Linked DNA regions of Homo sapiens: region 1 is linked to region 2. The links come from fine-mapping of genetic effects on plasma protein levels. A gene starts in region 2. The other region holds a variant in brackets. All regions are shown on one strand. Distances are between the middles of the regions. Region 1 overlaps CCDC33 (coiled-coil domain containing 33). Region 2 holds the start of SEMA7A (semaphorin 7A (JohnMiltonHagen blood group)).

What was found. PIP is the chance, under the fine-mapping model, that this variant and not a neighbour inherited with it causes the effect. Sun 2018 read protein levels with aptamers (SomaScan).
Region 1: its variant is fine-mapped to the plasma level of the SEMA7A protein (Sun 2018, PIP 0.95).

What each region holds. Positions count from the first base shown.
Region 1 is chr15:74,258,395-74,274,274 of GRCh38, reverse strand. CCDC33 (coiled-coil domain containing 33) reads right to left here. Exons shown (of 19, transcript NM_025055.5): 3 at 11,702-11,835; 4 at 7,488-7,597; 5 at 5,817-5,933; 6 at 2,481-2,572; 7 at 1,384-1,504. Among named protein-coding and RNA genes, the nearest start is that of CCDC33, 30 kb to the right of the region's middle. RefSeq lists enhancers at 9,311-10,141, 10,142-10,974. The variant C/T (reference allele first, on the strand shown) is at 6,416.
Region 2 is chr15:74,418,746-74,434,499 of GRCh38, reverse strand. SEMA7A (semaphorin 7A (JohnMiltonHagen blood group)) reads left to right here and starts at 542. Exons shown (of 14, transcript NM_003612.5): 1 at 542-759; 2 at 15,548-15,699. The coding sequence starts at 582. RefSeq lists silencers at 400-909, 960-1,109, 1,260-1,379 and enhancers at 4,559-4,658, 4,699-4,778, 5,399-5,488, 10,382-11,012, 11,278-11,572 and 1 more.

The DNA of each region.
Region 1 (15,880 bases), 160 kb after region 2:
ACCCGCCCCCAACCTCATACTCAAACACACAGCCCTCCTGTCTGCCCTGACATGGGTCATAGCCTGCCTGTCTCCACCTCACACTTGTGCTATTGCTGTGTCCAACCTGTACCAACCCTTCCTCTGTTAAAAATTCAAGACTGCCGGCTGAGTGCAGTGGCTCATGCCTGTAATTCCAGCACTTTGGGAGGCCGAGGTGGACAGGTCACAAGGTCAGGAGTTTGAGACCAGCCTGGCCAACATGGTGAAACTCCATCTCTACTGAAAATACAAAAATTAGCCGGGCATGGTGGCGGGTGCCAGTAATCCCAGCTACCTGGGAGGCTGAGGCAGGAGAATTGCTTGAACCTGGGAGGCGGAGGTTGCTAGTGAGCCAAGATGGTGCCACTGCACTCCAGCCTGGGCAACAAGAGCAAGACTCTGTCTCAAAAAAAAAAAAAAAAATTCAAGACTGCCTTCCCTAATCCAGGCTTTACATCCCTCTCCTCTGATTAAAAAAAATTTTTCGCTGGGCGCAGTGACTCATGCCTGTAATCCCAGCCTTTTGGGAGGCCAAAGCGGGTGGATCACCTGAGGTCAGGAGTTCGAGACCAGCCTGGCCGACATGGTGAAACCCTGTCTCTACTAAAAGGATAAAAATTAGCCAGGCATGGTGGCATGTGCCTATAAGCCCAGCTACTCGAGAGGCTGAGGCAGGAGAATTGCTTGAACCCGGGAGGCAGAGGTTGCAGTGAGCCAAGACTGCGCCACTGCACTCCAGCCTGGGAGACAAGAGCGAGGCTCTGTCTCAAAAAAAATTTTTTTACTGGGTTAAAATATACGTAACACAACATTCACCATTGTAGCCATTTTTAATGTACAGTTCGGTAATGTTAAATGCATTCATTTGTTCGTATTGTTGTGTAACCATCACCACTATCTATTTCCAGGACTTTTCATCACTTGAAACGGAAACTAGGTACTTATGACCTGTAACTCCCCATTCTTCCCTTTCCCCAGCCCCTGTAGCCACTGTTCTACATTCTGACTCTGAATTTTCCTATTCTAGGTATCCCATATAAGTGGAATCATATATTTGTCCTTTTGTATCTTCTCCTCTGATGTGATAGCCCTGACAGGCCCTCCCAGTTTGTTATTAGATTATACATTATCTTGTGTTGATGTTCAACTTTTTCACCCACGTGACTCCCATCTTCACCAGACCAAGAGTTCCTGGAGGGCAGTTTCTCTGCCGCACAGGCGAGCACAGCACTGGGTATGCCGTGGGATTCAGTCAACTCTTACTCGATAGTCAAGGGAACTGCTGACTGACTCACTGAGTGAGTGAACAGTGAATGTGTGGGGTAGTTACAGGAAGCTGGAACCACTGGGGAGGAGACATACCTGAGGGCATCCGTTCTGGCTGACGCGAGGCACGTCAAAGTTCATCATGGACGGGATAGGGAAGGACAGTGGGGTGATGGGCAGCCCCACAGAGGCCAGGTCCCTGTTAGCCTGGCTGACCCTGGGGAGGCAGGGAGACAGGGTCAGTGCTCTGGGCTCTGCACCTGAGCCTGGCAGCCCAGGGCCCCCCGCTTAGACTCTGGGTTGATGCAAGAGAAGGGAGTTGCAGGGATCCCGCCGAGTTCGGGCCTGGACCTCACGACAAGTGGGGACCACTGGGCTGGGCGTGCATCAATCATCTTCCTTCCTCCAACAAGCAAGGGGGCTTCATAAGTCATAAAAACTCAACAGGAGATACAGAGAAGTAGGGGAGTCATCTTGGGCCATCAGGGCCAGTTGGAAGTGACCAAGACAGACCCTGACTCCCAGGAGTCGGTGCTGTGGCAGAGAGCACACGTTCATAGGGGAATTTCCCACTGTGTGGCAAAGTATGAATCTCCTCTTGAGGACTGTGACTCCAACAGACTCAAAAGGAGGTCTAGGGGAGGAGGGGATGAGTTGTGGCTGGGACCAGGGAGACCTCCAGGATGAGGAGGGAGGAGACTCCGCCCGGCAGGGCTAAAGGCTGTGAAGTTCCAAGATGGCCTTTGGGGCCAACCACTGGCTGGAGCCTGTGGCCCTGAGCTAGAGTGGGAGGGGGAGTGGGGAGGTGGTGGGTGTGAGGCAGGGAGGCAGGTTGGAGGGGCTGAGGTTCCCTGAGCAGGGAATGAGGACCCCTCTTGTTGTCCTCCCCACACTCTCTAGCTGTTAGGCCTGGTATCGGCACTCATCCCCACCACCTGCCCTCCAGCTTGCTCTCAGGAGAGGACTGAGCTGCCCCTTTCCAGGGGCCTGGGCTCTCCCTGGGGAAAGAAAGGCATGGTCTGCTGCAGGAAGCTTACTGGGACCTCAGACCCAATGGAGAGGCTTGAAGGGCCTTAGGGGTAGAGGGGTTGCCGGAGGTCCTGGAATCAGCCCATGGCAGCAATGACAGCCTCACCCCCTCCTCTGCCCTCTGCTCTGCCCTCCTCACCCAGGTCCACCTGGGCCCCACTCACTTAAATTCCTTGTAGTTGGGAACGACCCGGGCAATCACCACTATGGGGTTGGGGTTGTTGGCCAGGGGCTCGTTGACTCCCCGGAGAAAGATCTGGAGAGGAGAGGAGAGGAGGCAGGTGAACACCATGTGGCCTTGGGACCTTCCAGAGACAGCCAGCCAGACTGCCTACCCTCTTTTTCCCCATCCGTGAGCTCATGGCTGCCTCCACACTTGACACCTGCTTCTCCCTGTTCCCTGCCTTACTCGGTTCTTGCTTTGCACCAGGCTGCCCTCCCTCAGGAAGCCTTCTCTGCCGAGCTGAGGCAACTGCTCCCGCTTTCTGTCCTGGGATTTACCAATGGATCTCTTACACTAGTTTCTTTGGGGAGAAAGGGTACGATGAGAGTTGGGTCCTGGGAAGGGAGGTTGTGTTCTAACCTCGGCCCCTCCACTGGCTCCTGGGGAGGGGTTGGGCTAGGGGTAGGGCTAGGTGTTCCAGCTCCTTGGTTTCTGTCAGTCAAATGAGGCTCCTCCCAGGGCTGTGAGGGGTCTCTGATTAGATCGTTTGTGAGAGAGCACTTTATAAACTGAAGACAGGAAGCCCAGGTCTGGTTTCTCCGACCATGCTGAACTTCCTGAGATCAGCGGCCACAGCCAGGCTCCCCTTGCCTCCCTCGTGCCCATCACCCTGGTGCCTGCTCCACTGCTCACCCTGGTGCCTGCTCTCCTGCCTTGCTGGTTTCCCCAGGAAGTACTGGTTTGGAACAGGATCATAGCATCCGCATCTCTGGGCTCCTCTTTCTTCATCAGATCCCGGTTGTCACTCCCCTGACCGCCCTTGGTTGTTCCCTCCTCAGTCCTCTGTCACCCCCTAAAGGCTTCCCTGCCTCCCAGTCCTGACTGCCCTCTCCTCTACTCCAGGCTTCTATTGGCGCAGCTTTCAGAGAGCCGAGCGGGGTCCCAGCAGGAGGTTACAAAGCAGGAGTGGACAGCGTCACCTTGCTCCAACCCTCACTGACCCCCTGCTCAGTCTGGGCCTGGGGGACACTGGAAGGCAGACAGGGGAGACAGGGAGTCTGTCCCCATGCGCCTCTGCTGCCAGCCTAAGAGGCCCTGATCTCCCGGACCCTGACCCTCACCCTGTATCCACCAATGGCTCCCACTCTCCCTCAGCCCTCACCCACCTCCCACTCGGCTCTCATTCCTCTTGCTCCTTCGATTCCTCTGCCTCCTCACTAGCCTCTCCACTTCTGTTCCTTTCCCTAATCCATCCTCTTTCCCAGGCAATTTGACACATGATGGCAAAAGTGCTCTTGTTAAAAATGAACTGGGTCACGTTATTCCCTGCCCGACACCCCACAAGCCCCTCTGCCGTGTCTCCCGACAGGCCCCCAGCCCCTGTCTTCTTGCTCCAGACTCTTTTACTCCTGCCACTTACCCCTCTTATTTCTGCCACAGGGTCTTTGCACATGCTGATCCCTCTACTCAGACTCCCTGCAGCTCCCACCAACCCATTGTGGCTGGCGAGGGCCCAGGAGTGAGGCTTGTTCTGGATCATTCTCCCTTTTCTCCCTCCGCACCCTCCTTTCAGGCTCCTCTTTCAATACCCATCTCAGCTGGTTTTCCCACCTCTAACCCCACACAGGTGTGAGCTGATGGGCACGTACAATAGTCCTTAGGGCCTCGCAGCTCTCACTGAGGGCTCTGGAGACTGAATCCCTTCATCACATTCAAAGGATTGAATCTCTGATGGTACATTTCACACTTTGGATGGGTCTGGGGTCTGGGGCTGAGGGATTTCACTGGAGGCTGGCAGGCCCTATTGCTCACAGGCTCCCCAGCAGGTGTAAGACTAAAAAGGGGGTGGTGGCAGCTAATTTGCACCTGTTCTGTGTGGACTCTGATCAGGTGTGAATGAGACAGCTGCCCAAGTACACCTGCTCATGACAGCCTGGGAAGTAGCAGAAGTTCCTGCTCCTGCCATGCGCTCACCATCAGGAGCAGGCAGCTGCTCTGTGGCCATACCTGTCGCACGGATGGAGAGGGCATCTGTGCTGGGGCAGGAGAGTGGGCAGGGTGCTGTGAGCCAGAGAAGGCCCCTACTCTACCGCTCTACCAGGCAAGTCAGAGGGCTGGGTGGGGTGGGGCAGCTCCACAGCAGCCCTAAAGTTCTGCCTGTGTCTTGGGGATGTGGCCTCCTCCCTGTGGGGTGCGGCCTGGGGACAGCAAGGCCAGGCTGTTGCCCCTCTTCCTTGTTCTGTGTGTGTGTGAATTGCTGGCTGTCCTCAGGAAAGGGCGTGATAGAAGGTGGCGGGGAGCAGAGGGCGCCTGTAGGTCTGATATGCTGGCATCAGAGGGGTGGCTGTAGGGGAGTAGAAATGTGGGTTAGGAGTTTTGGCTCCCATACCATACTCCCCTTGGGTCTCAGTGTCCCTGGCTGTGAAAGAAGGCAAAAGAATGCTTCCTTCCCTGCCAGGCCCACGGTGCTGGTGGGAAGTAGGGGGGTGGGAAGGATAGGAACAGATCAGCCATGTTTGGGTAGGTGGAAGCTCAGAGCTTGGGTCCTGTGGCTCCCACCCTGATCATACTCAGGCCATAGCTGAATTTGAATCTGTCACCCATGGGCAGTTTGAAAGTTGGGGGGAATGGGAGAGGGGCCAGGTCCCTGCATCATGTCTGCTTTGAGCATCAAGAGTTCCTCCCAAAGCTGCTAATTGGCCTAGGGGGTGGATGGTGATGGGTCAAGGGGCAGTGGCCAGGCCCAAGGTGGGCTCAGCCCTGTCCTGGCTAATGGAAGAGGCTCTGTAAACAGTTGCTGGATGAATAAATGAATGAATAAACTAAATACCTAATCGCCAGACCAGTCAAACCTCTTTAGACACAGTGCTGAAGGAAAGCTCAAGGAGGCCCTAAACTTTTGCTTGGGGGCCAAGGCACTATCCCAGGAGGGGAAGAATAGAGCAGGAAACTGCTGGGCTGTGGGCTCAGGGGGAGCACGGGGCTTCTCCCCTGCCCCTAGCATAAGATTCGGGGAGACAGGCTCTGGTCCCCACTGCAGCACAGAGACGGTACACCAGGAGCAGCAGTGTGGCTGAGCCCCTCCCCGCCACCTCCAAGACAGAGAGGGAAGGAGAAGAGGCTTGAGCATCTTCATCCTTGTCATCCCTGCCAAAGGGCTTGTCTTCACAACTCCTTTTGCTATTTTGGAAAGGCCTGGTTGCTTTTTCCATTCTTGACATCTCTGCTCCACACCCTCAGGTCAGCCAGAGGGGGCTAAGGGCAAGGCGTGGGGCCTGCTCAAAGCTTGGCCCTTTCCCACCCCCACCACCACCCCAGAGGGCCCCAGCCCTGGTACCTCCAGAGCCATGTGGTTGCAGCCGATGTAGCGGGGTATGAAGCTGCTCTTCCGAACGACTGTTGCGTACAACTGGGTCTTGGCAGTGGCTTCATCGGCTTTCCCAGACTCAGTGGGCTGGAGACAGGGTTGGGGCAGAAGACACAGAGGAAGGAGAGTGTCTAAGGGGCAGATCCTGGCCATAAATCCAGCCCTCTGCAGACAATCACTTGGCATTGCTCCGCTGGGGCTCCGAGCTGATAATTAAAGCTCATGGTCCCTGTGAGCCCTTCCAAGGAGATCAATATAATAAATCTTCCCTTTTCCATTTGAATATTTCATCACCCTCACAAGGACCACTGCCTGTCTGCTTTCCAGTAAAGATGTGATAACAAGGCCTGGGTTGTAAGTGAACAGACAGCCAGGGGGCCTGGGTGATGCCCCCAGAATTACAGCTCAAGTGCTGAGTCTCCCAGGGTGAGTAGCACATCTCTCTTTTACTTCCCTGCATGGCCCATCCTGAAGCCCTGGGATTGGGGTTCCTCATGGGGCCTAAGAGAAGGTAAAGCCCCCTGGTGCCATGATTGAAGAAATGCTTAGAAGAAAGTTCAGTGCTGGCC[C/T]GGAGGAGGGATGGGGGAGGGTAACTGACCAAACTGAGCACCTACTGTATGCCAGGAACCTTGCCTATCATTGCTTGAGATCCTCAAAACGACTGTGCCAGCTTTGCCAGTGAGGATGGAGGCCTGGGGACCAAGTGGCTTCCATGGGTATCCAGCTAGGAGGCAACAAACTTGGTCTAGGACCCCCGACAGTCTGGCTTCACATTGTTCTTTACTCTCAACCACTTTCAGGGTCTGGAATGCACAGTGGGGAGGGGAATGTGATGCTTCTGTTCATCTCTGGCTCACTACCTGGCACATAGTAGGTGCTTCATAAGTCCTTGAGCAATGAGAGAGTGAATTCTACCCCTTACCCTTCAGCACTAGGAGGGAGGACAGGCAGGGGTCTGGCCTGGGAGGCCCAACCTTGGAGTGAGGAGCCTCAGGCCCCTCAGTCCATGGCTTGGACCCAGTTGCTCACTCCAGGGGTGCATTCCAGGGAATGCTTTATTCCATGTACCCCCCAACTCTCCTGGGCCTTCTGGCCAAGGCAGCATGTGGAGGCAGCTCAGAAGGAACTGGCTTGGGAGACAGCATGACTTGGGCTCACCCTCAACTCTGCCGCTCACTTGCTCTGTGACCCAGGAGGAGGAGATTTTTCTCCCCAGGTCCCAGTCCCATGTCTGCAAAATGTAATTTACCTTGAGGATTAGAGAGGGGGTGTGAAATGTCTAGCACAGGGCGTGCAAGCAGCGGGTACTCGGTAAATATTGTGTTTCTTTGATTTTTAGATCCGCTCTTTTAACATTTTTGTAATCAAAATCTATCTTTAATTGGTATATTCATTTAATGTGGCAGTTGTCCTATAATAATCAGCTGTTTTTACAGAGATGAATTTGGAGAATTCCAAATTCTTGTAGACACCATTCCTGTGTATGTACCAGGAGCCATGTTTCCTGAGCCCCACATGGTCCTAGACTTGTCATGCTGTGGGTGGGTGTGGGATGCTCAGGGCTGCTCCGAGGGAATAGCTGGGGACATTCAAGGTGGTTCCCACCTGCTCTCCCGGCACTTCCCCAGGCCTCTGACTCACCTTCACCAGCTCAAAGTGGTAGGGGTGGAAGACACGCAGGTACTTGATGGGGATTTTGTAGGACAACAACTCCTGTTTCTTTCTGTTGTCCACCACCTTGAGGATCACATCTGGAAAGAGAAAAAATGAGCCCAGGTTTATTTTTAAATGGATCCCTTTCTCTCCCAGTAAGGAGAGACAGTGAGAGGTGAGAGACATTGTTGAGAGTAGGGAGCAGGGGCCACACTGAGGAATCAACATGCACACACATGTGTGGATCACCCCTGTGCACACAAACCCACAAGCACAGTCTGAGCCCCTGCACAGGGCAAAGCTCCATGCCGGCAGCTGTTAGGACCCCAACATGCAATTTTCTCCCATGGTCTAGAAACTCCCAGGTCAGAGATAGACACACACAGAACTGAGTCCAGTCCCCTGTGGCAACAGACACACATGTGCACACACTGAGATACACAGGCAAGCAGGCATAGCACCTCTTTCCAGGAATAAGACTCTTTCCCTTGGTCACAAACACTTATGCCAGCTCTTGAGGCAGGATGGGGAGAGATTATCTCACACATGTTGCAGGTGGGGAAACTGAATTTCAGTAAGAAAAAGTGATCTGCTCAAGGAAATCCTTTAATACAGCTATCAATAAAAGTCTACTACAAGTAAGGGAAAACTAGTCTAAATACTAAGAATAATGCACCACTTAGTAAACACCCTCCAAAGAGACTATATTTTCTCATAAAATGGCATGAATATTGGTATAAACTTTTTCTTTTGAGACAGCGTCTCACTTTGTCACCCAGGCTGGAGTGTGGTGGCATGATCTCAGCTCACTACAACCTCTGCCTTCCAGGTTCAAGAGAGTCTCCTGCCTCAGCCTCCCAAGTAGCTGGGATTACAGGTGCCCGCCACCACACCCAGCCAAGTTTTGTATTTTTAGTAGAGACAAGGTTTTGCCATGTTGGCCAGGCTGGCCTCAAACTTCTGACTTCAAGTGATCCACCCGCCTCAGACTCCCAAAGTGCTGGGATTACAGGCATGGGCCACCGCACCCGGCCGGTAAAAACTTTAAGAAGAACACCAATGTCCTATAAATAATCATGACAGTCCTGTTTAGTGAGCGGGACTGTCATGATTATTTAGTGAGTATCTACTATGTGCCAGGCATGTCTCAGCCATGATTCCAACAAATTCTCACCACAACCCCCCGGGTAGGTATCATCATCTCTGTTCTTAAAATATGAACAATGGAGCTCAGAGGGTTATATAACTTGATCAACATAACACATCTAGAAAGTAGATGATAGGAAGGGTTGAATTTGGTGACACTTGAGGCATCTTTATATTCTGGAAGTCTATGATTTCAGGAGGAAGAAGAGATGGGGAGGGAGAAAAGGAGGAGAAGGATAGAGGAGGGATGGAGAAAGAATGAGAGAGATGAGGTAAGAAAGGATACAAAACAGAGAACAGGAAAGGGAGGATGGGGCGGAGGGGTGTGCCTGAGGGAAACACTTGGGGAGACCCTTGCCCTCTGCTTCTCTTGAGACAAGGGGTTTCAGCACCAGGGACAGCAGCTGGCCCTTGAGGGCTCAGCAGGTTCAGCGGGCTCAGCCGCTGGGTCATTTGGAACTGGATGGGTCATTTGGAACTGGATGGGTCATTTGGATGTTGGGGTGGAGAAGGAAGCTGAGGGCTTTATTAAGTATTCTTCTTTCTCTGTCTTCCCCACAGCGACCCTGAACACTTGCCAAGGTATCTCAAGAGCTTGTCATATGGGATCCATGCTCAAAGGAAAGAAGGGGGAGAGGGCACTGAAGGTGTTGAGGTTGGCTTGAAGAAGGGAGATTGAGGTAAGGGATATGAAGTCAGCAGACCTGGGTTCTAGTACCAGAATACTAACTTGCTCTGTGACTGTTAGCAAGTAATTTAACCTCTCTGAACTTCATGTTTCTGCTCTTCAAAATGTCAACACTTTAATAAAAAGCCTTGTCTCTCCCCTTGGGTTGTTGTAGGGAGAAGAGTGTGTTTTCAAGCTGTAACATTCTGTGCAAATGCTCCTCGTGGTTGTCACTATTTTCCTTCTCTTTAAGCATCTGCAGCTCTCCAAACACAAACCCTGATGTAGGCAGACCTGAGGAAATTCAACTGGGAGATTCCAGTGCTCCCAGCCAAAGCACCACGAGGAGCTGTGCAGGCTGAAGCCCCTTATGCCAACTCGCCATGGACCAAGAGTCCCCAGATCCAGTTGGGATTTGCCAAGGTTGAACGAGAGGTGAGTGCCGTACATTTTCCCCACCCGCTATTCCTGGAGCTCTGTGTGGGCAGCCAGCAGATGAGCTGGAATTGGGGGTAATGGACAGCCACTCCTCCCTGCTCCTGTCTCCATGCTACAAACACACTTCATCAGCTTCCTCTCTGGGCATTGTGCCCTTCCGGCCTCCCACCGTTCCCTTTGTGTGGCCAACAAGCTATTTCTGCCACCCGCCTGCTTTGGCCCTGACACAGGGTCTGAAACTCCCCTTTGCTTTTCATTAACACATCCTTGAGCTACCTCCCACCCTTCCCCCGCCTCTTGGCCTGGCCTCCATCTCCCCCACCCCCACCGCAGACATCACCACAGCAACCGGTTCCAACAAGCATCCAGCTACTTCAATCTGCAATGAGATGCCTGCCAATATTCCCTGCCTGCCCATGAGGCCTCCCCACTCTCTTGTCCCTCCTGCAGTTAGTCCTGCCCCTCTCTCTGCTGCACAGATGGGCCCTGGGGTCACTGACCTTATTACATTTTTTCCTCTGTTACCCCAAGTATGTAGAGCCCAGGGCAGGATCCCAGCTCAGGTCCACTCATCATAACCTCTAACTTCCCACCAGCCACATAAATACATGCATGCATACACACAGAGCCACACACACGATCTATACATACTTGTGCACTGCAAGGCATACACCACCATCCAGATTCATCCAGACACACATATAACCACACTGTTGCAGCTAGACACACCCACGCGCACACACACATAAGACACACAGACATGCATGCCTACAAGTACAGACACAGCACACACCACATTCACACATGCGCATGAACCAGCATGCAGGCATTCACAAAGACATGCACACACAGGCACGCATGTGCCTCTGCATGAAATCCTAGGTCAATTTTTCCTCCTCTTTTGCATCTTCTTAAAGCATCCCAACAGCTCCACCTATCCCTTTACAGGCAGAAAAGAAAAATTATCTGGCTTGACCTAGAACTAGCTCCTTCCCCTTTTACGGAGGCTCCCCTTCCTGTTTCCTTTCTCCTCTCCCATAGTCTTCAGCTGGCTTTCTGCTCTGTGTGAGGAGAACAAGGAGATCTGTCTAGGTCCTGGCAAGATTTCAAGGGGGAGAGGCAAAGCCTGTCCTCTCAGGGAGAGACCACCTGCAAGAAGCAAGTCTGAGGTCCTGACTAGATAAGATCAGAGACATCGCCAGGCACCTCCAGTCTGTGCTGGCAGTGCCAGATGCGATGCCCCCCTACCCGGGCATCAGCCAATCAGTATTCCCTTGTGTCCAGCCTGAGCTCCCCCAGGAGAATGGAAATCCAACAGACCCACAGTGTGAAAGTAAATATAAGTGTGCACATGCATGTGTGTACATGGGCACCTCGTGGCTCAGGCTGACACCTGGGGAGGACTAGGCAGGAATAGGGATCCATTCTAGGGACATTTCAAATATTTTTTAAAAAATCAAATGGAAGCAGCGGGAACCCTGGAGCTGCAGTAAGAACATGCAATGCTGAGTCCTTGGTCCTTGGTCTTAAGCTTAAGCCAGTTAAATTCCCTGAACCTCGATGTTCTCTTAAGCAATGGGAGCAGCATTGCTCCTCCTGGGAGGTGGTGACTCCAATGAGTGATGTGTGGGGACGTGCCAGGAAGCTGTAATGTCCTGTTTCAGTAGGAGACAGCGCTAATAACAGCCATGAAAATAATAACAACAGTCATAAAAAAGATAAGCTTGCATTGTCTGGAAAATTCATTTATGTGGAACAACTCATTTTTCGAGCAGGATGGGGAGATGAGGCGTGACAGTATTATGATTTTTTCTAAGTGCTTTTAACTGAGCCCAAGGAGGTGTTCAGGTGGCTACCAGCTGCAGTGAGAGGGAGCCTGCTTCTTGCTCTAAGTCCTTGGCTGTGTTCACACCCTGCCTGCACATGCCGGCCCTGCCCAGCCCCTGCTTACCTTCTTGCCCTGCATCCTCAGCTTGGATCTCCACATTCACCGTGTCCCCCCAGATAGGGGCTCTGGTGGGCTCTGAGGTCACAGATGTGACTGCCTTGGAGCTCTGATTGTTCTTTTCCTCAGATGTGCTTTTCCTGGGGAGAGCAGGGGCAGGGTGAGTCAAAGGGAGGGGTTCTGTCTGCTGCTTGTCCCCATCCCAGGCTCCACTGTCCATAAATCTGAGTGAAAGGTGGACAGAATATGGAGAGCTCTGTCCCATGCATAGACACTTGTGTCATCCCAGGCCTCTCCCCCAGCTCTCCTGCCAGCCCAGGTGACCACACTGTCTCGCTGGCCACTACTGAGGCCTTCACTTAGTCACAAGCCTCTCACTTAGAGAGGCTCAGGGCAGGGGTAGGGATGGGGGTAGAGGGTAGATGCTTTGCCCGCCTGACTTCCTAGCCCTTGCCAGGGAGGGCTCTCCAGCAGGAGCCCGTGTGCATGGCCTCCCTCTTCTCTAGGTTCTGTTTCGGTGGGAGGAATCCTCTGGGCAGAGTGGCTGTGCGATGCCCCGCCTGGCTGTCCTCTCTTCTTCACCTTATTTCCCTAAACTTCTGGCCCAGATTTCCAGGCTCCACCCGGCAATCCCAGTTCTAAATGCTTGCAATGAAGCACGCACATCCTGCTGCCTTCTGAGATGCCTGCTGTGTGCAGGGCCTTGGGCTGGGCCCCTGGAGCTGGAAACCTGGAGCTGGGTCCAGGCCTGGGGGCAGGGGGTGGTGGAAAGGGCTTTCCAGCCCTCAAGCACTCAGATTGTTCAGGACCAGGCTGTATAAGGTGAGAGGTAAGCTTGGGCCCTCTGCATCCCAGTGCACCCCACAGATATCGGAGATCCAGAGCCGTCAAACGGCTCAGGGAGAGAGTGAATACTTCTTCTGTAGAAGAGGTTACTAGGCCAGGGCCATCCCCAGCGCTGCTCCATTAACTGCAGCAGTCATGGGCTGAGGAATCATCCCAGAGATCCTGTAGCAGGGGGAGCCACACCACACACCTTGCGGAGGGAGGCAAGACGCACTAATGGTACCCCAGGATGGGAACAAAGACGTCATCCCCACCAGCCCTTGTTTCACCCTCAAGGACCCCAAAGGGAGTGTGGGGCAGGCCAGTTGGCTCAGACCCCACCTTCTCTGTGCATTAGCAATACCAACATGGTTCTTCCCAGCCCAGCTTGTTCCTCTCCTCCAAGAAGCCCTCTGGAGTCCCCCGGCCCTCACTGTTCCCTCTGCCCTTTAGACTTAAGTGACGCTGTGACCTGGCTCCTTGCTCCCACTCATCACAGCCCTGCTCCTGTGGGTAACCATGCTTGCAGGAGCCCTTCTTCTGTGGGTGACCATGCTTGCAGGAGTTCCATCTCCAAGTTCCAGGGGTCAACTGAGGACTCCTGCTGTGCTTTGACTGAGGCAGTATGACACAGTGATTGTAAGAAGGACCCTGCAGCTGGGCATTTTGGGTTCCAAATCCCAGCTCTACCCCGTGCCAGCTGTGTGATGTTAGGCAAGGTACAGAACCTGTGGTGCCTTATTTTCTTCATCTATAAAACAGAGATGCTAACGGTGCCCAGCCTGCAGGGCGGTTGTGGGAAGGAAACGAATGAATATGTGTAGTGCCTGGCACATTGCTAAGTACCAAGAAAGTGTTAATAATTCTTAGTACCTTAAATTATTAAAATATAAATATGATTCCTGTTATTACCCCATAGCACCAGAGAGCTTAGCCTTATTGACCCTCCTGTGACCAGCCCCTTTGCCGTGGCGTGATTTTTCCCCATCATGCCCCCAGTTCTGGGTCTACAATTGGGAATGTCTGGCTGCTCGGGCCAAGGTGTGGAATCCTGGAAAGAGCACAGGCTTGGGAATGATTCAGAGCTGGGTTTGGAGCCCGCGTTTATCCTGGCGAGATCATCTCCCCTCTGCACCTACTAAGTTCCTCCTTTTTCAATAGTACCGCCCTGAGAGAGTGTTATAAGGACTGGAAAGAAAGCATGTTCAGCTCCTGGCATCCAGAAAGCCCCAGTTCATGTTATTCCCTCATTTGTGATACAAAACAGCTTGGGTGTTTTTGCAAGAGGACCTGCCTGAGGGCAGCATGAAGGGGAAGGAGCACTGAGTACAAGCTGGGGTGAGAAGGGGCATCTCCCAGAGAGCCGGAGTCCTTCTCAGATGAGCGTCCATCCAGACACACCCCTGCAGGCTCTGCAGAATGGACTCCTCACACCCGCAAAGTGGTGTGTGGGAGGCTGCCAGGCTAGAGAGGGAAGGCAGAAGCCTGGCAGGAACGTGGCGCTCAGCTTGCTCCCTCCACCCTCGGGTCCCTTTTTCCCTCCGGCTCTGTGACCATGCTTGACCAAGGGGTGCAATCTAAGTACCTCCCATGACGCTCTGTGCCTAGGCTCCCGCTCCTGACAGCTGCCCCAGCAAAGTCAGAGACCTCAGGCTCTCAGCAGCCTCCCTGTGCTACCCAGCCACCCGATCTGCTACTTATAGATATATAGTTAGTGCACAATAAGGCCTCACAGCCTCCCTCCTCAGGGACCTGCACAGAAACAGCAGAAAAGCAGAAGCGCCAAGGGTGTGTCAGGAAGAAGTCAGTCCTTCTGCACCCAGATGTCAACCCCAGAGCTGGACACAAAACTGCACCTGCATGGACACATTCCTGGGGGATTCCCAGGGATCTTCATGTGGCTCTGTGTGCACAGAGAAGACACAAATGAAGGTGTGAAGTCACAGGCAACATAGTGACAGGATTCAGATTGAACCCCATGCCAGCCTGTCTTCTACTGTCCTCGTATCCTCCCAACCCTCCTGGGAGGGTGGCAGGAGGAATTCCCAGGTGCAAAGAGGTGGGTAAAGGTGACGGGGCAAGGCAAGGGAGCAGGTGCTGACTTTCCTCCAGCAGAGAAAGAGTTAAGCAACTATTTTCCCCACCTCCCTGCCCCATCTAATATGAAGGTCATCAGGGCTAGGTGAGTGCAGATAAAGCAACTGGGTGGGAGGGGGAGGCCCCAGGGGAAGGGGGAGGCTTTTAGCAGGTGGAGGGAGGCTCTCGGGGTAATGGCTTTTCCTGGCACAGCTGACTCCTCCGGGTCTTGATGCTATTCTAGAATCTGGAGAGCAAGAAGGGCCTCTGATTCTTCACAGAATAGGAGCAGGGGATGAGCTCACTCCCTGCTCCCAGCCCCATTCTGCACCCCGCAGATGGGCACGTGGCTGAGTTCCAGGTCCCCAGGCTCTCTCGGGGCTCCCAATGCAGTCTTAGAACCCAGGGGACCTCACCAAGACCTGCTTCCCTAGGCCTCTCCACAGGCTGTCTGCAAGGAGAGACCCCCCTCCCTGTCCCCCCAAAGACCTGCCCTGTTGACTTGGACCCGTTGGCTCCAGGCATCCAGGGCCAGGAGGAGCTAGTGGGTGGTGCCTGCTGTCTCGGGGCCAGATTTAATCCAGCCACAGCATGGGCAGCCATGCCAGGATAGGACTGGAGTTGGGTTTAGAGTGCAGCAGCCCTGAGACCAAGCTGCAGGAAAACATAAACCTCCCTCAACCTGGCCTACCCTCCAGGCTGCTGGAAGGGTGTGTGTGTCTTTGACAAACTCCAGTCCCCAGCTAGGCATTCCTGGGGCCCCCACCCCAGCAGGGTGTAAGGGGGCCAGGCTCAAGCACAGCTGTGAGTGGGAGGGAACAAGGACTTTGCTTTCCTTCTGCAAGGTCATGACTAAGGGAAAATATGTCATCTGGTTCCCGGGGGCTGCAGCTGTGAGTGGAAGAAATGAGCATCGGAAAAGCATGGGATTTGATGGACAGAAAGCAAGAGTGCTCATGAGCCGCTTTCCCCCTCACTCCAGGAGACACACACACACATCCACACATACATACACACACATGCACACACATGCGCACAAATGCATGCACACACACATACATGCACACATGCACGTGCACAAAGGCTGCCCAGAGAGGTGTGAGTACCATACTGTACCCACTCTTGTTACCCAGTCCTCAGGCTGCCTCTGGGGTCTTCTATTCACACCTGAGCCCACCTCCCCCACCTGCCCTGCCTGTCCTGTTGGCCTCTGGCTCCCTCAAAGCCTCAAATCATGAACAATAGTCAAGACCTGGCCGCCTCCTGGGCAGAGCTTTAGAAGCT
Region 2 (15,754 bases):
GAGGGAGGGGAAGGAGCCAGGCCAAGATGAAAAATTTCCAGTGTTCTCCCAGGCAAAGCAACAGCGGGTCCCTGAGTGCTCCCCACATATCATCGTTGTGCCTGCTGGTAGGCTCAGCAGGGAGCCGTGTCCACTTAGGCGAACGCATCCTCCGAGGACCATAGTCCTCAGGGTGCGAACCACTTAGCTGGCCATAGCAAGGTTGTTGGGTGTTGGACTCCTCTGCGCCCTTGGAGAGAGGTCCTCCACGACTTCTACGCCAATCTTTTTACGGGGTGCGGGGAGTGGAACTGAGGCCCAGAGAGGGGATAGGGCCTGCCGCCCCTGGCAGAAGACCACAAGTCTGGCTTGTCCGCAGCTGGGCTTTCCCCGTAGAGTTGCCCGGGAGAGGGTGGCGAAGGTTCCCCCAGCAGTTCCGCTCTCGCTCAGGAAAGCCAGTGAGGCGAGAAAAGGCTGCGAGGGGCGGGGGGAGGGGCGGGGTGGGGTCAGCGCTGGCTCCGCCTCCTGGCGCTTGGGTCTGCCTGCGGCCGGGCGCTGGCTCAGTCTCGGCTGATTGCCGCTGTCGCTCCCGGGGCCACGGGATGACGCCTCCTCCGCCCGGACGTGCCGCCCCCAGCGCACCGCGCGCCCGCGTCCCTGGCCCGCCGGCTCGGTTGGGGCTTCCGCTGCGGCTGCGGCTGCTGCTGCTGCTCTGGGCGGCCGCCGCCTCCGCCCAGGGCCACCTAAGGAGCGGACCCCGCATCTTCGCCGTCTGGAAAGGTAGGCGGCGCCGCGCGGCCGGTCAGGCGCGGGATCAGACGCTGCGCGGGGCGGGTGCGGAGTGTGCTGCACCCGGAGGGAGTGCGTGCGCGCAGCTCTGCGGGTCCCGGGCTGTCCCCGCGCTGTCCCCGCGTGGAGCGTGTGGGTTTGGGTGAGTGTGTGTGAGTGTACACGCTGGCACACCAGAGCCGGCTGTAACGCTGCGGCGAGCGAGCGGCGGGGGCCGGAGCCCCGGCTAAGTCGCACCAAGTCCCTGGCAGCCAGGAGCCGCAACGCCCGGGCGCCAGGGGAGGGGGCGGGCCCCTCTCTCGGCCCCGAGCCACTCTGGGTCCTCTGGCTCGGGGGCTTCGGCGGAGGACCTTTCCCCGCCTGGGACCCCAACCCGGGTACCCTCCTTTTGAGCTGCGGGCTCTGCTGGCGCGCGGGGCGCAGGCTGGGCCGGCAAGGGGGGCGCGGACCCCTTGCCGCCGCCGCCGCGCTTCGGCAGCGGGAACAAAGACCCCGCCGCCTGCCCCCGCCCCCGCCCCGGCCCGGAGCTCGGGCCAGGCAAGGGGGTGGGCATCCTGCAGCGAGCGGCGGGACATGGTGCGGTGCGGCGGCTTGGGGTACCAGGGCGCTGCCTCAGCAATGCCGGGACCGGCCGCTCCCCCCTTGCCCGCACGTGGCAGTTGTCACCAGAAATCGGCTCCAGCGTTGGGGGGCAGTGCCCGTTGGGTGGGGCACGGCCGTTGGGACCCCCAGGCGGTGGATCTAGGGCGGGGGTGCAGCCTTTAGGCCAGGGTAGATAATAAGAACCTGGGGGACTGGAGTCTCCCCCAGGGCACCTCAGTTTAGACCCTGTACTATGGGACAGAAAGCCGGTTAGGCGGGGGTTTGAGGCTTTCTGCCGCGAGGAACTGATCTCCCCTCCCCTGCATTGCACACAAATGCCTCCCCGCCCCCAGTCCGATTCGGCTCTGTCCCCAAATTTGGCGTGTCTGCGGCCCCCCTGTCGTGATGGTGGGGGACTCGCAGTGGGGGCTGGGGGAACTGGTCGGGTCTGGCCCCACCGGGAGCCTTTTGATGCCTTTGGCAGTTTGCAGGGATTGCGGGAGTCTGAGCATTATCTGGGGCAGGTATTATTAGCAGAGGGGAAAAAAAACCATACACAAAACGAGTGGCCCGAACTGCCGCAGTAGCTGAGGGAATGTGACTTGCCCAAGGTCACTGAGCAGTGTGGGAGCCCAGGTGCAGGCAGGGGCTCTGATCTGGCACAGGACCAGTCCAGGTTCTGGGTTAGGGAGGGGAGAAGGATTTAGGTGGTTCAGGGACCATGAATGAGGTGCTCTGGGGACCAGCTCGGCTACCCAGCCTGAGGTGCTCCTGGAGGAAGCCGAGCAGTGCTGCTAGAGCTCCGGCCGCCTGTACATGGAGGAGGCCTGCACACCCCTCTGCCATCCCAGCTCCAGCCCAAGCTTCCTTTGCCCTCCCAGCAGCTTTGCCTTCCCTCAGTCTCCTTGGCTGTCTTGGACATCATAGCGTGTGGGCACTCTGGAGGGGACAAATGGCCACATCTGAGTGTTCTGGAATCTTTCCCTCCATCAAACCCCTTGCATTTTGACTCTGTTTGCCTGTCCCAAAGTCTTCCCATGACCCCCCACCCCCACCCCACTTAATGCACACCCACTTCTTAGCACTTAATGCATACATCCCATCCTGGGCACTTAGTTCCCACCCTGAGGCTATTTAAAGTTGCTTTCAGTCCTCTTACCCACTTTTCGAAGCTCCCAGCACAGCTCCATGGCCTACCCCCCCGCCCGCAGTTCACTGCTGTAGCCACACTGGCTGTGCCCTCTGCTTAGTAATGCACTGTTGAGCCCCGCTGGCTGGGGTCTGCCAACCGTTCACCAGTCTTGTCCAACGACAGTCTGTGGTCTCCTTCACCAGTGCCAGGTGCCCCACTGGCCAGACAGGCCCTGCCATTCACCTGCCCCCCACCCCCAGGGCCACCAGCTGGTGATGGTGTGCCCGACTGACAGCTGCCTCCTGTCTCCTGTGGGGTGACACATGGCAATCGGACAGGAATGGGCTTGGGTAGGACAAACCCAGGAACAGGGTAAGAGGGGGTCTTTCTGGAAGCCTAGAGCTCTGTCTACCAGTGGTGGGTGGGAGTATGGTGGTATCCAGGAATGACAAAATCAGGGATGGTGGTGGTTCTGGAGCCATTTCTCTATGAGGCATAGATGGGGGTTTTAGTTTTGAGTCAGGACAGCTGTGGGGACTGGAATAGGTATGGAAAGTTCTTTATTTTCTGCTGCTTGGATCCCCAAGTTCTAGAGAAAGATTAAAGCAGGGAACTCTGAGAGGGGCCCAGCCTGCACTGATCAGGGAGATTGCTGCCTCTGCAGCTTGATGAAAGTCTGGCACAGCGTAGCTCAGGCCAGGGAGAGAGATGGGCCATCATGTACCTGCTGGGTGTCCTTGAGCTCCACACTTGTCTTTGACCCTTAGAGCCTGCCAGAGCAAGAAAGGCTGTAGGGATTGTCCCCCAAGGGCTGTCACTGACACATGGGCCAGTCAAGGATGTGCATGTGTGGTCCTGATCTTCCTGTAAGCAGGAACTGTAAGGGAGTAGATTGCAGGTGAGGGCTGGGGCTTAGCAGGAGGTTGGCATGCGTTTGTAAGCTGTGCACCCCTCTTCCATTTTATCAGTGGTTGGAGGAGCTAAAGAAGGCTTGGAACCCCAAGGTCAGAGGTGAACCAGCCTGTCCATGGGGAAACAGAACCCATATCCCCAGTCTCAACCTGCCCGGCTGGTTCTGCCCTCCCTCGCTTTTGTCCAGTGAAACAACGGGATGTTATTGTTGACTTGGTGGCTGCTGGGGAGCCATTCTGGGGCTGCTCCCCAGGGCAGGAGGTTGTTGTTACCTCCTCCAGGGGATGAGGTCACATCTGGGGCTTCCCAAGCATCAGCATTTCCAGTGGAAATCCTTGCCCCCTTGGGGACTTAGATGTGTTCATCACCTTCAAGGTGAACTCCCTCCACAGAGTCTCATGGTGGGGGGGCAATTCCCCGGAGGAGAGGGGGAGTTTCCTAAGCCAAGAGAGATGCTTGGTGAGGTCACCAGGAGCTTCCTACCAAGCTCTGTGACCCCTCTGTCCTGGACAGTGAAGATTCTGAGAGCAGGTCCGGTGGAATGGACGCTGGCACAGGTCCAATGATGACCATGGTATAGGGGAGAGAGCTGGGAGGTCGGGAGCCTGGTTCAGGCTGTGACCTAATTTGCTCTGTGACTGGGCAAGTCTTTGCCTTTTACTGAACCCCAGTTTCCCCAAATGCCCAAAGAGGGTAGGGGAGGGGGCTCATCCTTTTCTGAGATTTAATGTCTTAGGATTTCTCTCTCTCTGGGATGGGAGGGGCTGGGCAGAGTCTGTGGTGGCCTGTTTAAATCTTAGATTTCGAGAAATCTGGAGGAGAAATTGAAACCTGGGAAGTCAGGGGAAACCCTTAAGTTCGCGTTCTTTCCTATCTTTTTCTCTCGTGGGCCAAAGGCTGAGGATCATTTGGAGGAAATGGATCATCAGCATGTGCCCTCAAGGGTGGACATATTCATTCAGCAAACATTTGCCGGGGCCACCCTTGTGCTGGTCTTGGGGATGAGCTTGGGGATCTGGTGATGAGGAACAAGATGATTCCGTGCCCTTGTAGACTTCTCAGTGTAGATGTAGATGGGCAGATAAACCTGCAGGTACAACAGAATGTGTAACAGAGAGCAGTTATGGGCACTGAGGAGATGCCTAACCCAATTTTCCCAATCAGGGAGGGCTTCCTGGAAGAGGGAGCAAGCTGAAATGGCAGGAGGAGGAGCCAGCTGGGGGAGGGAAGGAACAGGAGGAAGCACCCCACTTAGTAGGATTTTAAACCCAAGAACTTACAGCTAGGACCACAGAGAGGAGAGAAGCCATGTGAGGGGCCCCCATGTGAAGAGGCGTTGAGTCAGCCTGGGCCTGGGGGCTCCCGAAAAGTTTGAAACTTGTCCAGATGGGCATAGGTGAGGGGATACCTGTCATCCTATGACTGGCGCAGCAGTGAGGAGGAAGGACGCACCCACTGGAGAAGGGCCGTGGCAGGCAGGGAAGGCCTCTCGAGTGCTGGCAAGGCCATAGCCCCGTCACAGTTCCCTGGTGGGAGGCTGGCTCTGGGTCCAGGGAGACCATGGCTTTCCCCATTGACTCCTGACCGCAGGACAGTCTCCAGGTGAGAAGGTCTGTCCCTCAGCTCTGTCTTCTCCTGCTCTTCCTCTGCAGAGATGGAAGGAGCATGGAGGTGGCAGGGTGGGGGTGGCATGGATAGGTCACTATCTGGGCTGAGGGTGGCGCCCTGGGGGAAGCAGGGAAAGCTGGGCTCTGTTTTTTGAGGAGGGCCAAGCAAGGTGGGATGTGAAGCTCAGCCCAGGGGGCAGGTCTGGCAGCCCTCAGGGGGCAGTAGCTGGAGTAGATGGGCCACTAGCTGATAGCCTGTCCACCCCCAGCTTCACACGGCTCTGTCACAAGAGACTGACTGCACTTCCCCTGCTTTGGTCGGCAGCTCTGGACTGAAAAGTTTCCACTTCTCTTGATTTCCTTTTTTGGCCCAGCGTGGCTGCCCCAGGAGCCTTCCTTCGCCATGGTTGGGGGAGGAAGGGGCCCTTAACCTGTCCTGCCTTCAGAAGAGCCAGGGTTCCGTACCCTTGCAGGGAGGGCCAGCCACCAGGTGTATGGCCAGCTGTCCTGTCCTCAGGGAACCAGGCAGGCCAGAAAGAAAGCAGGGGGATGGAGGGCCACGGCACCTTGTTGGGCCCTGCCTCCTCAGAGGACAGAGTTCCCCCTTCCCTAGCCAGCCAGGCCTTGAGGGACTGTCCCCTCTCTGCCCCGAATGGTATGGGGTGGCTCTCCAAGCCCTTTATTCTCCCTGGCCCTGGCCTTGCCATCTCTCCAGATCTGTGCCCAGCCTCCCGGAGGACCTCTGTCCCTATGCTGCACCCCATCCAGAACACATGGCACACAGCTGCCGCCTTCCCCAGGCCCTGCATGGTGGCCTGGCCCCACTGCCTCCTAGACTCCCACAGTTCTTCCCTCACTGCTCCCTGGCTCCGCCTCCTCTCTGCACCCCACTCACCCTCCTCCTCCTTTCTGCCCAGAAAGGAGGCTGCTGGTTCTTTCTCAGTTCCTCTGAGGAACCTTCTTGGATGACCCCAACCCACACAGCCTGACAGCGCGAGCTTAGGATGTCAGAAAAGAAATGTCAGAGATTAGCTGGGCCAGCCAAACATTCCACAGATGGGGAAACTGAGGCTCAGAGATGACAGGGACTGGCCCGAGATCACCCAAAGAGGCAGAGCTGGGACCGGGGCTGAGTCGTCTGAGCCTGCTTCTGCCCCAGCTCTCAGCCTGTTTCCAGCTTTCTGTCTGCCATCATACTCTGTCCCAGGCTGGGGGCCCCTTCAGTGCCTTTCCTCCTCTGCTAGCCCAGTTGGGCCCAGACTCTTCCCGCCCCAGTGCTGTCTGTTCCCAGGAGCCACACCAGCTGTGAGTGTCCTCTCTTCAGGACCTTGGATTTGGACCAGCTCCATATACCTCTTCTGGTCTTTCCTCAGGTGGGTTGGGCCTCAGGTCCCAAGGACAGGTTGATCTGTGTCCCGGCTCGGGCTAATCAGGTTTTAACTGTCATGACAGCCTGGGATTATGCTGATCCTGCCATGCCTTCTGCACCCCATGCTTCCAGCCAGAGGCTTGGGCTCTGTGCCAGCACCCCTGGGTGACCCCTCATCATGGAGGGCAGCCAGCCTAGGTCTGTGTTCGGCTCCTCTGGGGGAGAGGCAGGAAGAGAAGCCCTGGGTTTGCCCTTGGGGAGCCCCCACATTCCTGGAGAGGTGAGTCTTCTGCCTGTGAAGTAGGGCGGACCCCTGGGGAGGTCAGGAATGACCTGCAGATGTAGCCTAGGACTGTGACAGGAGGTGAGAGCAGGAAAGGTCAGTGTGGGATGGTGCAATCAAGGAAGGCTTCCTGGGGGAGGAGGAGGAGCCAGGCTAGAGCTAGGGGCAGGAGCATAGGGTGGGGGCAGAGTGCAGCATAGACAGCTATTCATATTGTTGTTTGTACAGAGTCTCACGCCTGTAATCCCAGCACTTTGGGAGGCCAAGGTAGGCAGATCAGTTGAGGTCAGGAGTTCGAGACCAGCCTGGCCAACATGGTGAAACCCCGTCTTTACTAAAAATACAAAAAAATTAGCTGGGTGTGGTGGCACACGCCTGTAATCCCAGCTACTTGGGAGGCTGAGGCAGGAGCTCTGGCCCAGCCTGTCGAGGAAGGAAGGTCACTGTGATGACTTCTGCACTCCATTGGTGGCCCAGGAATCTGTTCTAAGATACCTGTCCCTCTGGCATGGGAGTTTGGCCTGCCCCAGTCTTGCTTCTCTCCACTGTCTGAGCTGCTCCCTGGGAATGGAAGACTTGGAGCAAGAGGAAGCCTGGTCCTCACCTTCAGGGCCCCATAGGCCAGATGAAATCCCATCAGACAGCATGATCTGAGCGAAGATGGTGGTGCCAGATGGTTTGTGGTACAAGGTCGAAGGTACGGGCAGTGAGGGCTGGAGCAGTCTGGAATACTTCCTGGATCCAAGGGATTTAGCTACATTTTCAAGGACAGGTAAGATCCATGTGCACAGAGAAAAGGAGGAAGGTCAATCCAGGGAGGGGAGAACAGGAGCAAAGTGCAGAGATGGAAATGAGCCATGGCAGAGCTGTGCAGAGATGAGGTGGGCCTTGACTGCCCTGCCCTGAGGTTTTGGGCCCTGCTTGGATGGGCAGTTAGGAGCCATGGTGGGTCCTTGAGCTGAGGAGTGGAGGTGAGTGTTTTCGCCAGGGCTGGCTGAGTGGGGACCTGGCTGGTGAGCACACTCTGCCCTTCACTGTGGTCAGCTTCAGAGCATGCAGTACTTTTTTTCTTAGAGACAGGATCTCACTGTCTCCCAGGCTGGAGTACAGTGGTGCATTCATAGCTCTCTGCAGCCTCTAACTCCTGAACACATGTGATCCTTCTGCCTTGGTCTCCCGAAGTGCTGGGATAACAGGCATGAGCCATGGCACCCGGCCCCACAGAGTACTTTATGTTCTGAGCGAGATCTTGGGAGACTTGTCTTTCTAATCAGTCACTCAGGACCGGGGCCCCACGCTGCACCTCGAGAAGATTCCTGCCCCACTGTTGTAACTTAGGATCTTTAAGATGGAGAGCACCTCTTCCATGATTAAGAGAGAGGCAGGTGGAAATAAAGATTTTGTTACTAACAGGTCTTGAGGGATACCTGGTGTACCTGAAGCCACACACAGGTGGAGGTCAGGGAGCATGTGCAGGGTGGGGGGATCTATGGGCCAGCATCTTTATGGGGTCCATGGTGTTATTAAAACAAGTTTTCCACAGGGAGTTTGTTTTGTTGTTGTTGTTGTTTTGAGATGGAGTCTTGCTCTGTCACCCAGGCTGGAGTGCAGTGGCGTGGTCTCAGCTCACTATAACCTCTGCCTCCTGGGTTCAAGCGATTCTTCTGTCTCAGCCTCCCAAGTAGCTGGGAGTACAGGCGCACACCACCATGTCTGGCTAATTTTTTTGTATTTTTGGTAGAGATGGGGTTTCACCATGTTGGCCAGGCTAGTCTCGAACTCCTGACCTCAAATGATCTGCCCACCTCAGCCTCCCAAAGCGCCGGGATTATGGGCATGACCCACTGTGCCTGGCCTCCATGGGGAGTTTTAATTGGTGGGTTTACAGCAAGCAGTCATGAGTTCCAGGAGGTCATGTTGTGACTTGAGACAAGGTCACTGGCCTATCTGCACAGTCCATGCGGGCTGTGGGACAAGGTCAGCAGGACCAATCAAGTGGGCTGTATGTAGCCATCCCACAGGGAAGCAGTCACCAGGAGACGACTGTCTACGGTAGATATCTGGATTGAGCACATGGAGGAACTGGGAGGAGGTGGGGAGCTGGAAACGGTGTCAAGGTTGACTGAGCCCTGCTTCTAGTGTGAGAAAACCCAGCTTATATTCAAAACGGATGCCAGGGCAACATCAAAGCATAGGAATTCACTACATTCACCTGGGCCTGCACACCTGTGCTCACTTGCACACACTGTCTTCAGGGTGTTACGGGCAGAGGTCAGGACTTCATTAGCCAAGTAGCCTCTAACTGGGCCTCACCCTCGGTAGGCTTTGGTCTCCTCATCTGTCTGGGAAGGGCTGACCTTGGAAGCCTCCAAGGGCTCATCTCTGGAATACGATGTTATAAGCACAGATTCTGGAGTCAGCTTGCCTGAGTATGAACCTCTGCTCCACCCCTTACTAGCTGTGTAATGCTGGGTAAGTTACTCAGCTTCTCTGTGTCTCATGGTCCTCATCTGCAAAATGGGGATAATAAAAGAACCTACTTCATGAGAGTTCAGTGATGATTAAATGAGTTAATATATCTAAAAATCATTTGGAATAGTGTTTGGCACGTAGTAAATGCGATGGAAGGGTTGGGTGGTAGGGGCATCATCATCGTCGTCATCATCTTCCTCCTCCTCCTCTGGCATCTCTGGTTTCTGATGGAATGCAGCCCTGGCAGCCCAGCCCCTGCCAGTTCTCCCTAATGGGCTTTGCTGGCTGGCTGCCCTTGCTCAGTCTCCCCTGCTGGTTCAGGCTAAGGCTAAGACTGGGGAACCTTCTGTTTCTCAGCAGTCTTCCACCTGCCTCCCTCCCTCCACTTGGGGTTGTGTAGCCATTCTCCGCCCTCTCCCCGACCCCTGCCCTGGCTGTGGGCCCAAGGGCAGGCCCTGCACCGCTACCCTTTGTCTGCTTTGAAGGAGCCACCAGCGACTTCGGCCCCACTCTGGGGCTTTTGGAACCTGCTGGGCTGGAGAACAGCTGGAAGGTAGATGGGACATGATGTTTGTCCTGGGCTTCCGGCCTTCCCTGGGCGTGGGCTCAGGGCATCTTACCCACTCCAGCTGGGCCTCAGTGCCAGCCTTCCTTCCCTGAGTCCCTGAATCCTGCTCAGCACAGCCTCTCACCAAGGGGCTTGCTTTCCACACTGTCCCTTCTCCCTAGGACTTTGCCCCAGACAGTCTCCCCAATAGCCAAACCTTCTTCTGGTCCTTTGAGCACAGTGGTGCCATGGGGAGAGCATCCAGACCTTGGTGGCTTGGAAGGGCATTAGTTTTCCTGTTTGTAAAACGGCAATACAGGTTGTCCTGCCTTCTTTGCAGGGTGGCTGGAGGTTTGGTGGGCTGGTCAGTGGAAGCAGATGAGAATGTCAGTTTCTTCTGCTGCCTCCACTTCCAGAAAACTGTCTGACTTCTCTGGCACTCAGAGAGTCACACTTTCCCAAAAAGACCCATGGACTTCACCCTGATTGTTTTGTGATTTGTTTCAAGAATCCTGGTGGGTCATAAAACCCAGGCCCAAACAAGTACCAGCACCCACCCTGACTCGCACCCAGCTAATCCACAGGGAGGAAAATGAACCCAGGAAGGCCCAGCCCCAATCACCGTCACAGCCAGCCAGCTGTCCAGCCACCAAAGAGATAATGAGGCTTCTTGGAGCCAGGGCTGAGCCACACATGAGATATACTCCCCTCCCACCCACAGCTGACCTTGGTGGGTGGGAGGATGCTCCCCTTTGGCCCAGCACACAGCTCGCTCTTCTCATAGCTCATAAACAAGTTAGACTTCTCAGTCCTCCATGAGCTGAGTGCTGTCTCGAGGCCCCACCACCTGCCCCAGCACACAGGCTCTGCCCCTGCCAGGCGACTAGCTAATCTAGAACCTAACCCTGCCTGAGAGTTGCCAGGACCCACCTGCAACCATGACCTATCCTTAGCACCGAGCCGGTGCCACCCTGGAAACCAGGCTTCTCACACCCTCTTCCTGGCCATATCAGGAGAGACAGAAACATTTGTTCCTGTATTCCCACCCCTAGTGGAAGGGTTTCCTCTACCACTCTGACATGCACGGCACCTACACTTCCACCATTAGTCACTCCTTTGGATTTAAGGCTTTGATCACTAAAGGCCCCTAGGAGATCAGGGCCTCACCTGGAAGGTGGGTGGGCGGGTGATTCCCTTTAGTTATCAGGTTAGTGACTCGGCACCTAGTGAGCAAGAGAGGGAAGGGTAGAGTAGGGATGATTCAGGGAAGTAGGGAGAGGCTGAATATACAGCTTTTTGCAAATCAGAGGCTCTCCAGGAAGCCCAGGATGTGATCCTGGAGAGAAGCAGCTGGGTAATGGGTACTGGAAACTTGGAGCTTCCCTCGCTCTGTGTCCTTGGGCCGGTGGTACAGCCTCTCTGGCCTCTGTGTCCTTCAGTTCAATGACTGTTTAGATCCTCTCCCTTCCACCTTGACATGTGGATGTGGGATTCCAAAGGGTGGAGAGGCTGCAGGCTAATTCCTAGGCATCACGTGGGCCTTCCCTCTACTCTCTTTTCCAGACACGTAGTTGGGCGAGGGTGTGAGGTAGGCCTGGCAGTGCAGGGGTGGGGGCACAACTGTGGGAGGACGCTCCTGCCAGATGTGCTGGCTCTCCAACCTGAGGTCGGCCTGCTTTCTGCTCTTTGGCCCGGGGCCTCTCTGACTGCCTGACTTAGGCATTCTCTGTGGGGGTGCCCACATTCCTGCCATTTTCAGAGCCTGACTCTCTGCCCACTTTCAAAAGGCTCCTTGAGGTTACATTCAAGGCCCACTGGGTCAGTGGGTCAGGTTGCAAGGCTGGCTTTGCCAGACCAGAGCATGGGACCCAGCCCCTTCATGGACAACAACACCTCCCACTCTGCCCTCCCCTGGAGCTGCACTCCTCTTTCACAAACAACAAGAGTATGGGGACAGCGGGCCAGACGGTGACAGCACCAGAGTGAATGAGAAGAGGAAACGTGCTCCACCAGGCAGGCCTGAGTTAGGAAATGCATGCCAGAGGCCCAGACTTGCCACAGTCGGTCAGCTGCTGGGGTGGTGATCGAGGGTAGGGTCCCTAAGGAGTCAGGCCCCATTCTTTCCAATGGGATCAGAGCCCTGTGAGCACCCGGCCCTGCGGCTGTGTCTGGTGGAGGTTATCTCCTACAACCCAGCCATCCTTGCAGCCCTCCTATCTGGCCGGAGCTGGGCCTTGCTGGCCCTGCCACCATGAGAAATGGTACTCAGGGGAACTATGGAGTCCGGCTGGGTACGGGGCAGCCTGAATGTGCTTTCTTGGTCCAGCACGAGTGAGGATTGGCTCGGAATCACATGGGGCGGGAGGTGGGTTGTCTTGTTCCTGGCCTGCCTCTGGGCTATGCCCTCCCCATATGTCCCTAGCCCCCTCCCCTACCTGAGCCCCTGGTTATTCTGGGAGCTTTTAGCTACCACTTAGCCACTAATGCGTCAGGCTGGGGAGTGAGGGGGGGACACGGTGCCAGACGGTGCTCCTTTTAGACAAGCAGGATGGGAAGCAGGGGGAGCCAGGAGGTGGGGGACGCCAGAGGATGGGGAGGCATTTTCCACTCCTGGCCCTGCTCGTAGGTTCAGGCAGCAGGGGAGAGTGGTGGGCAGTGGGTCAGTGTGTCCTTGGACAGGCTGCATCTTCCCTCCCCCATCACACGTGGGCCTCAGCTCACCTTCCCGATTCTTCTCATTAGGACTCTGCCAGGCTGCAGCGCATGGCCTCTGTCCTCCATACAGCCACCTTCCCCACCTTTGCTCAGGTTGCGTCCTCTGCCTGGCTTTCCCTCCCGGCCTGTTCAGGGCCCATCCAGCTTTTATCTACCTCACCTCTCCGTTTGGGTTCATAAAGCATCACAAAGAAAATGTTCAGGGATATGATACATACTCCCTTGGCCTGGCCTTTTTAGGGGTAGCCCCTGGCCTTGCTCAGCCCCTGCCTGGGCAGAGACTCGAGGCCTGGCCCTGATGGCTTGGTGCTGCCTTCACTTCCAGGCAGCCCTCCTGCCCCTTAGCCCCCAGCCCCCGCTCCTGCCAACCTGAACAAAGCTTCCTTTCATGTATTCATCGAGCTGCTGCTGCTCGACACTTCCCGGGCACAATCAGGCCTTTTGAGGGCCTCAGGCGGTGCGGGAGCCCAGGCTGGGGCTGGGGTGGAGAATGGGCCAAGGCCTTGTCCTGGGGCTGAGCTGGTGTCATTCCCTCTAGTCCATACGCATCACCAAGAACAGAGGTGGGAGGGCCAGGAACCTGGGGGTCATGGGAGGCCGTGGTCCTGGGCTCCTGTTCGTTTTCCTGCAAAATGGGACGAACAGTCCCTGCTTCCTCCACCCTAGCCATTGTGGCTAGGGTTTGAAGGGAACTGGGCTCAGGCTTGCAGATCCGCATGGGATTGTCCGGGCCCTAGTGCTGCAGCTCCTACCCAGGGGCCAGCAGCCCTCACCCTCCCTTCATGTCTTCAGCAGATACTTTGTGGGCAGCCCTGGGGTCCATGCTAAGACAGTTTTGCTGGAGAGCTGTGGAAGTTTTCTGTGGTGTGGCTGTCTGACCCCTCAGATGTATTCCCAGGGTAGGGCCAGACCTCCCCCTCAGACCTTGCTCTCCAGGACCCAGTCATGTCTCTGCCATCAGGCTCGACTCCCCAGGGCAGGACTGTTTTCCTCTTCTCTTCAACAGCCCTGCAATTCCTAGACCAGGGTGCCCCCACCCAGAGTCCTGTCTGGTGCCTCTTTTCCCTTGAGTAGTTGTACATTGGCCTTGCCGGCCCCCTCGGAGACCTGGGCCTGTGGCCTTGGTGCAGGAGTGGGGCTAAGGTGACTGATGAAGGTGGCTAGCACAGTCTGACGGCTAGAACTTTTCTGCTTTGACTCCCAGGGACTATGGATCTCAGGTCCTAGCCCAGCATCTCTAGATGCAGACACGCACCTTTTCCTGGCTGCCAGTCTGGCTATCGGTGGATGGGAGGGGAGCAGGAGGGGAGTTGGGGCGGCAGACTGTCTGGATCTCTGGCTGGGCCACAGAGGATGGTGGCTGCAGTTTGGGCTGCGGGTGGAAGGGGAGTTACGGGAGCTGAGTCAGGAAGACTGTGTCTGTGACCCCAGCACTCTAATTTTATCCCAGGAAGGGAGGGGGAGCAGGGCAGCACCCAAGACCTGCCAGCTCTCCCTCCCTCCCACCGAAGTGCCAGTACCTCTCAGCCCTTGCTCTGCACATCTCGGGCCTACAGGGAGGGAGGCTTGGGGGCCAGGGAGGGCTGATATCCCCGGAGCTGTTCAGTTGGGCTGTTTGTGATGTGCACCAGGAGAGCCACACCACCCAAGGACAGTGAGCTCAGCACTTCTCTCTGTAGCCTGCCATGCTGCTGAGAACTGATACTGCAGCCTGGGACAAGCTAATGTGTCCTGCCTGCTGGTGTGACCTTGGCATGTCTCCCAGGGTACCTCAGCATTCTTCTCTGCACAGTGCGCCAGGCCACAGAAGAGGTGAAGAATGCTCACTTCCGGGGGTGACCTGGCCATGAAGGGATGTTTCTTAAAGAATGAAGGTGTGGTGGCACAGTGTGTGGTCCAGCTGCTCCTTGCCCCTGTTAAATGCAGAATCAATAGGGATGGCTCCAATGGGAATAAGAGGGATCGGGGGCAGAGTTGAGGAAATGGTAGTTCTTTTTGGTCAGAGCTGGAGCTTGGGTGTCACTGCCAAGCTGGCTGCCCCAGAGTTTCCTGCAGCTGAAAAAACAGTGGTCAGACCCAGTTCCTAGGTGAGGCCCAGGCTGGTCAGAGGTGGGAAGATGCTGGGTGTGGCTGATTGCTGGGGGCACAACCACAGGCCATCCCATCCCTATAATTTACTCCTGCAACCAGGACAACCTCAGCAGTGTCACTGGAGATGAGACACCTCCCCAGAGGCAGTGGCTGCAGTCAGTTTCTTTTTTGGGGAAAATTTTCCCGGTCAGCCCTTCTGCTGAAAGTCCCAGGCTGTGCTCTGTGAAGGTTCCCCTGTCCCAGAGTTGCTGGGGAGGAAGAGCCGATCTTCACCCCCCGGAGAGCTAGCATCCTCATGGGTGAAACCAGGCCAGAGTGGGCCATGGAATAGAGTCCAGCTTGGTAGGCAGGAGTGCAGGCTCTGGTTCAGGGTCTGCTACTGACCTGCTTCCGTGTGCCCTTGGGCTGCCCCTCCCTTGGCCTCTGTTTTCCCATCTGTGAAATGGGACGGAGTAGATGTTGAGATTCCTTTCCTCCTCTAGTCTAGTGCTCACTAAGGGGCTGGGGATGGGCCAGGAGAGGTTGGAGAGGGATTCCTGAAGGAGGAGAAGGGGTTCTGAGCATTGTGATTCCTGGGAACCTGGACTCCAAGGGGGGTGCTTGAAGGCCCTGCTGCCTGCTGAAAGGCCCGGGGTTGGGGGGCGCTGCTTGCTTTGGCTTAGGGCAGCAGAGAACCTCCCAGAGCATGGCCAAGGAGCCCTGGTCCTCCTGCCTTAGCCCAGCCCTCAAAAGTGTGTGCCAGAGGAGGGGGTCTGTTCCCCCAAGAGGTCCCTAAATCCTTCCCCACTCTGAGATCACACATACTGTGAAGGAAGGAGAGGCTGCCACACTAGGGGAGGGGCCGTGCTGTGGGTGAGGACAGCTGGTTGCTGGAGCCCACCGGAGGATCTCTTACTTCTCCTGTCCTTGACTCTCTGAGTCTGGGTACCACCCCAGCCCAGAGCTTGTCTGACGCCCTGCCAGGACCCTGAGCACCAAGCACTGGTTCCAGTGTGCCATGTGGAGGGGACCCAGAGTCTTCTCTCTCGGGACCTGGCTTCAATGTTTCTACTAATTGTCTCCTCCTCAGGCCATGTAGGGCAGGACCGGGTGGACTTTGGCCAGACTGAGCCGCACACGGTGCTTTTCCACGAGCCAGGCAGCTCCTCTGTGTGGGTGGGAGGACGTGGCAAGGTCTACCTCTTTGACTTCCCCGAGGGCAAGAACGCATCTGTGCGCACGGTGAGCCTCTCTCTTCCCCCAACACCCCCCCTACCCTCTTATCTCCCCTCTGGCC